Linked DNA regions of Homo sapiens: region 1 is linked to region 2. The links come from fine-mapping of genetic effects on gene expression. A gene starts in region 2. The other region holds a variant in brackets. All regions are shown on one strand. Distances are from middle to middle.

What was found. PIP is the estimated chance that this variant, and not a neighbour inherited with it, causes the effect. A credible set is the group of variants that fine-mapping cannot tell apart.
Region 1: its variant is the best candidate, but not a certain one, in a credible set for the expression of MEX3D in whole blood (INTERVAL, PIP 0.70).

The regions. Positions count from the first base shown.
Region 1 is chr19:1,514,193-1,517,087 of GRCh38, forward strand. No RefSeq gene overlaps it. Among named protein-coding and RNA genes, the nearest start is that of ADAMTSL5, 2.6 kb to the left of the region's middle. The variant G/C (reference allele first, on the strand shown) is at 1,549.
Region 2 is chr19:1,566,621-1,569,515 of GRCh38, forward strand. It overlaps MEX3D (mex-3 RNA binding family member D), which reads right to left and starts at 1,705. Exons shown (of 2, transcript NM_203304.4): 1 at 844-1,705. The coding sequence starts at 1,438. RefSeq lists silencers at 1,705-1,894, 1,935-1,984.

The sequences.
Region 1 (2,895 bases), 52 kb before region 2:
GTGTTGCTGGTCCAACTCAGTCTGCCCTCCAGCCTGTAGCATGTCAGCAGAGCCACCCATATGCCATTTATTGAGCACCTACTGTGTGCACAGCTGTGAACAACCCAGCCAGTCCCAGGCCAGCGGGTAAGGCAGCCCCCTGGAATGTATGACCCCCCACCTTCTGACCTGGACTATTGGAGAAAATAGCCCAGGCCCACCACTGATGGCCCCAGGTTGGGGGGTGGTGGTTGCGGGGATGTCAAGAAGGCCCTCACTGAAGGGGTCAAGAGAGAAGGGCAGGCCGGGCGCGGCGCCTCATGCCTGGAATCCCAGCACTGTGGGAGGCCGAGGCAGGCGGATCACCTGAGGTCAGGAGTTTGAAGCCAGCTTGGACAACATGGTGAAACCCAGTATCTACTAAAAATATAAAACTTAGCCAGGCATGGCGGTGAGTGCCTGTAATCCCAGCTACTCGGAAGACTGAGGCACGAGAATCGCTTAAACCCGGGAGGCAGAGGTGGCAGTGAGCCGAGATCACGCCACTGCACTCCAGCCTGGGAGACAGGCGAGACTCCGTCTCAAAAAAAAAAAAAAAAAAAAAAAAGGAAAGAAAGAAAGAAAGAAGTCAGCTCAGGACATGTGTCAATGTGTCATTAGGACAATTGTATCCTCCTCAGATGTGCCCCATTCCCAGATGTCCAGTCCACAGAGCTCCACTGGGAGTGCAGACAGCAGGCCCTGTGCCCCGCAGGGAAGGTATACAGAAAGCACAGCGCCCACAGGGAGCACACACAGCAGGCATTATGCTCTGCAGGAAGGGTATACAGCAGGTGCTGCATCTTGTAGAAATGCATAGAGTAGACTCTGCCCTGCAAAGGAGTGTATACAGTAGATATGGCACCTTCAGAGGAGTGCATACAGCAGTCACTGCATCCTGTAGAGAGTATATACAGCAGGTGCTGCATCCTGCAAGGAAGGTATACAGCAGGTGCTGCATCCTGCAAGGAAGGTATACATAAGGCGCTGTCTCCTGCAGGGAGCGCATACAGTAGGCACTGAGTTCTATGGAAAGTGTACCCCGCAGCCCCTGTTCCCTCCTGGGAGTGCATACCGCAGCCACTGCACCCTGCGTGGGGGCTCTAGAGCTGGCAAGATTGGCAGAGGTGGTGGTGAAGATGTGGAGGGCTGCCCCCCACCCCCAGTTCTTGTCCCCTACCGTCTCCCACCTCTGTCCTCTGGATGTCCCTAGGAGGAGGCTGGGAGCTCAGCCTAAGACACCCGGTGTAGGTGGAGGGGGTGGCTGCTGAGGCTCAGAGGCTCCTGGGGTCCCAGTTGGGCGGGGTCCCAGCTTACTACATTCCCCTGCCCTTGCCTGGACCCTGACCCAGGAATCAGCCGAGTCCCCCTACTCTGAATTTCAGCCTGGACCCCCTCCTTGAGGCAGCGTCAGGGCTAGAGGGGAGACTGAGACGCGGGTCCCGGCGGATGTGGATCAATTAGGTTCCATTTCCTTCATGGTTGTATGGCCTTGAGGCTTAAGGAATGCCGCGATCTGCTGTGTGACTG[G/C]GCTACAGTGAACAGTATGGTACCCCACACTTCAAACTGTGTTCACAGGGTAGATTTCATGGTAAGGGTTCTTACCATAAAAGAACAAAAACAGTGGGACACAAGGGACCTCGGGAAGTGACAGGTAGGCCTGTCATCTTGAGTGTGGTGACTGCATATGTGCAAACTCATCAAATTGCAGACACTGGGCTGGGCACGGTGGCTCACGCCTGTAATCCCAGCACTTTGGGGATCCAAGGCCAGTGGATCACCTGAGGTCAGGAGTTCGAGAGCAGCCTGACCAGCAAGGTGAAACCCCGTCTCTACTAAAAATGCAAAACCTAGGACACGGTGGTCCCAGGATACCTCAACCTCCTGCGTGGACTGGGTGGGGCCTCCCCATCCCTGCCCCACAGACCCCTGGACCCCCCGGTCCCTGGGGCTGTCCGTCTGTTCCTGGGCACCAGCAGGGGCCACGCAGAGTTGGGACCCTCCCCGGCTGGAGTCACCCCATGGGACTCAGGGCCCTGGACCCTCCTTGGCCGCTGCTCGCCCGGTCCTCATTCTGTGCCGGTTTCTTGTGCACGCTCGGAATCTGTTCCCTGCAGGCACCCAGTGCCCCGGGCACCGTCCAGAATTCCTGGAAGAGACCTCTTGCTTTCTTACCCCACTGCCCAGGCTCCAGGCCTGTGACATGGCCTCCCCAGGGTGCCCCTTCCCCTCCACCTTCACGTGCTGAAAACCACCTGTTCTGTCACTTTCAGGCGACGTGGATCAGGTGGACTGGCCCACCTCCTCCATTGTGTATGACGTAACCCATGCTTGGCCAAACAGATAATTCCATCTCCTAGAGACGGGGATTGGCTGGGGGATGACCATGTGACCCAAGTGGGCCAATGAGAGCCTGCCCTGGGACTTGAACTGGGCCATTAGAGGAAAAGGTGGTTTCCCGTGGCTGGGGTGGGCTCCAGGGATGGCGTGAGTTGAGGTAGGCTGGACTTTCTTGACTGCTCGAAGAGATGCACTGTCTCAAGCAGATGCTGACAGACGGCAGCAAATGGAAGGGGCCAGATTTCTTTTTTTTCTTTTTATCTTTCTGTCCTTTTCTTTCTTTTTTTACTTTTTTTTGAGACAGGGTCTTGCTCTGTCGCTCAGGCTGGGGTGCAGTGGTGCAATCACAGCTCACTGCAGCCTTGACCTCCTGGGCTCAAGCGATCCTCCCACCTCAGCCTCCCATGTAGCTGGGACTACAGATGCATGCCATCACATCTGGCTAATTTTTTTGATCTTTAGTAGTGACAGGATCTTGCTATGTTGTCCCGACCCAGGCTGGTCTCAAACTCCTGGGCTCAAGAGATGCTCCTACCT
Region 2 (2,895 bases):
GCGGGCGGGTGGCTAACGGGGTGGTGGGTGTGAGCTGGGCCAGGCACTGCCCACCACCCGCCCGCCCGCCCCGCAGCTCGGGGGCCAATGAGCAGCGGCCGGCCTGATGTCACCCTGCAAATCTCAGCCTCGCTCTCTAACAAAGAGAACAATGGGGCGGCCAGAGGGAAGCTCCGACGATGCCACCGCTGGACCCCACACCCGGGGCCTGCCGCCCGCCGGCCTGCCCAGCAGGCTGCACCCCAGAAGTGGCTTTGACAGCCGGTCCTTCCCCAGGCCCCGAAATCCCTGACTCGGGGCCAGAGAGTGGAGCAGGGACCCTCTCCTGCCCGGTCCCGTCCCCACCCCAGTCAGGGCCCCAGGCTGGAGACTGAGACGTGCGCTCTTTGTACTGTCAGCCTTCTCTCCCGGTCCTGCAGGCGGCCCCCCTAAGCCACCCCTAAACCTGCGCTTGCCCCGCCCCGCCGCCTGTGCTGGGTGTGGGGCGCCCCCCGCCCGGCCGGAGCCCCGGGCCCTCGAGCCCCTCTCTGGGGTGCCCCTGCGGGCGGCCGAGGGCCTGGGCTGCGGCGCGGCTCCCCGGAGCCTTTCCGGGCTGGAGGCGGCCCAGACAAAGGCGGCGGCGGGGCCGGAGCGCGCAGGGGAGGAGCGCGGGCTGCGCCCAACTTTCTCCCGCGGCGGCTGCAGGACAAAGGCGCAAAGGCAGCGGCCGAGGCCGGAGCCCACGCGGGGCGTGTCCGGTGCGGGGCGTCCGGCGCGGGCTGGGCTGGGCTCGGGCGACCCCCTTCCCCGGGGCGGACGGTGCGGGGACCCCCAGGACAGCAACCCCCGACGAGGGCCACTCACCCTGGCGACCCACGATCTCGGCGACGTGCTCGGAGCTGGGCACCGGGACGCACTCGGTCATGTTGACGCTTTTCTTGCGGCTGCCGATCACGCTCATCTGGTCGGCCAGCAGCGTCGGGGGCCCCAGGGCCGCGGGGTGGGGCGCGAAGCCCGCGAACACGTCGGGGGGCGACGGCCGGGGCGGCGGCGGCGGCGGGGGACTCGCGTTGGGGTCCAGCAGCGGCAGCGACCCGGGGGCCACGGCGGGGGCCAGGGTCGGGGGCGCGCCGGCCTCAGGTCCGTCGGGGGGCACAGGCTCCGGAGCCGCCCCGCCGTCCGCGCCCCCCGCCGCCGCTGCGCCGTCCCCGGCCGCCCCCTCCTCGTCCGTGTCGCCAGCGCCCCCCAGCCCGAGCGCCGACAGCTGGTCCAGCGCCAGGCGGAGCGCGGCGGCCGCGTCGTCGGGTTCGGGCGGCGGCCGGGGCGCGGGCGCGGCCTCCTGGGCGCCCTCGGGCGGGGGCGCAGGTCCGGGTCCGGGGTCCTCCCCCGCCGCCCCCACGCCGCCGCCGCCGCCGCCCCCGCCCCCGCCGCCGTCGGGCTGGCCGAGCGAGCTGGGCATGGCGGGAGCTAGCGCTGGGGCCCGCGCTCCTGCCGCCCGCGCCGCCGCCGCCGCCCGCGCCGCCCTCCGCCTCTGCGAGCTGGGCCGCCGGCCGCCTGCATCCAGCGGCGGGGGCGGGCACGGGGGGCCGGGCGGGCGGGGCGGCGGCGGCGCGGGGCTGCTCGGGGCCGGGCCGGGCCGGGCCGGGCGGCGGCAGCGACTCTGGCTGCGGCTCGGCGGCGGCGGCGACGGCGGCGGCGGCTCCTCGGCGGCCGAGGCGGCGGCGGCGGCGCGGGACGCTCCTTCCCTCCCGCCGCCTCCCGCGGCCCCGCCCCGGCCCCGCCCCCGCGACGTCACGCCGCGGCCCAACAATGGGCGGCCCCCAGGGCGCAGGCGCGCGGGGCGGGGCCGGGGCGGGGCCGGCGCCGGGCACGTGGTCCAGGCCCCGCCTCCGCCCGGCGCTCGGGCGGGAACCCGGGCGCATCCGCACGTGCGGGCGCTGCTGCAGGTGTGTGCGGCTCAGCCCCTGCCTGGACAGCGCTCCCTCCCCAAGCCTGAGAGTCCCTGCCTCGCGCGCCCCAGGGCCCGAGGTCCCGCTCCCCAATTTCCCCTAGAGATCCGGGTCGCCCCCAAGCGAGGTCTCTTGCTCCACGCCCGCTTCCTTGTGCCAGGGACCCCCACCTCCCTGCATAAAGGCGTGGGGTCCTCTCCAAGTCCCCCTCGCGATCCCACTGGACTTCGAAGTCAGGCTCCTGCCCGCCCACCGCCTCTGTGCCAGGGTCCAACCCCCGCCCCACGGTGCACCCCCCAGGGCCTGGGGTCCCAGTCCCCAAGTACCCCTTGCTATCAGGTGGGCTTTAGGGTCAGGCCCCTGCCCCACCCCCAGCCTCTGTGCCAGGGACAGCTCCACAATCATGCACACCCCAGGGCCTGAGGTCCCTCTCCCCTAGTCTCTCCTAGCTCCCCTCTGGCTGGCTCCCGGCTTTGGGATCAGGCCACCTCCTCCACGCCACCTCCTCCGCCCCACCCAAGGCCACAGACCCGGTCTCTGTGCCCCCAGCCAGAGACCTCTCTACCACAGTGGTGCTTCCATGGCGAGGGCAGGCTCACACCAGCCAGAACCCTCCATGTGGAGCCCCACCCTCTTCTGGGGTGCCTTTCCCCGCAACGGGCGTTGTCCACCTCTAAAGCCACCCTTGCCGGGCGCGGTGGCTCATGCCTGTCATCCCAGCAGTTTGGGAGGCCGAGGCGGGTGGATCACGAGGTCAGGAGTTAGAGACCAGCCTGGCCAACATGGTGAAACCCCCGACTCTACTAAAAATACAAAAATTAGCCAGGCGTGGTGGCGCGCACCTGTAATCCCAGCTACTCAGGAAGCTGAGGCAGGATAATTGCTTGAACCCTGGAGGTGGTGGTTGCAGTGAGTCGAGATTGCACCACTGCACTCCAGCCTGGTTGACAGAGCAAGACTCCTCTCA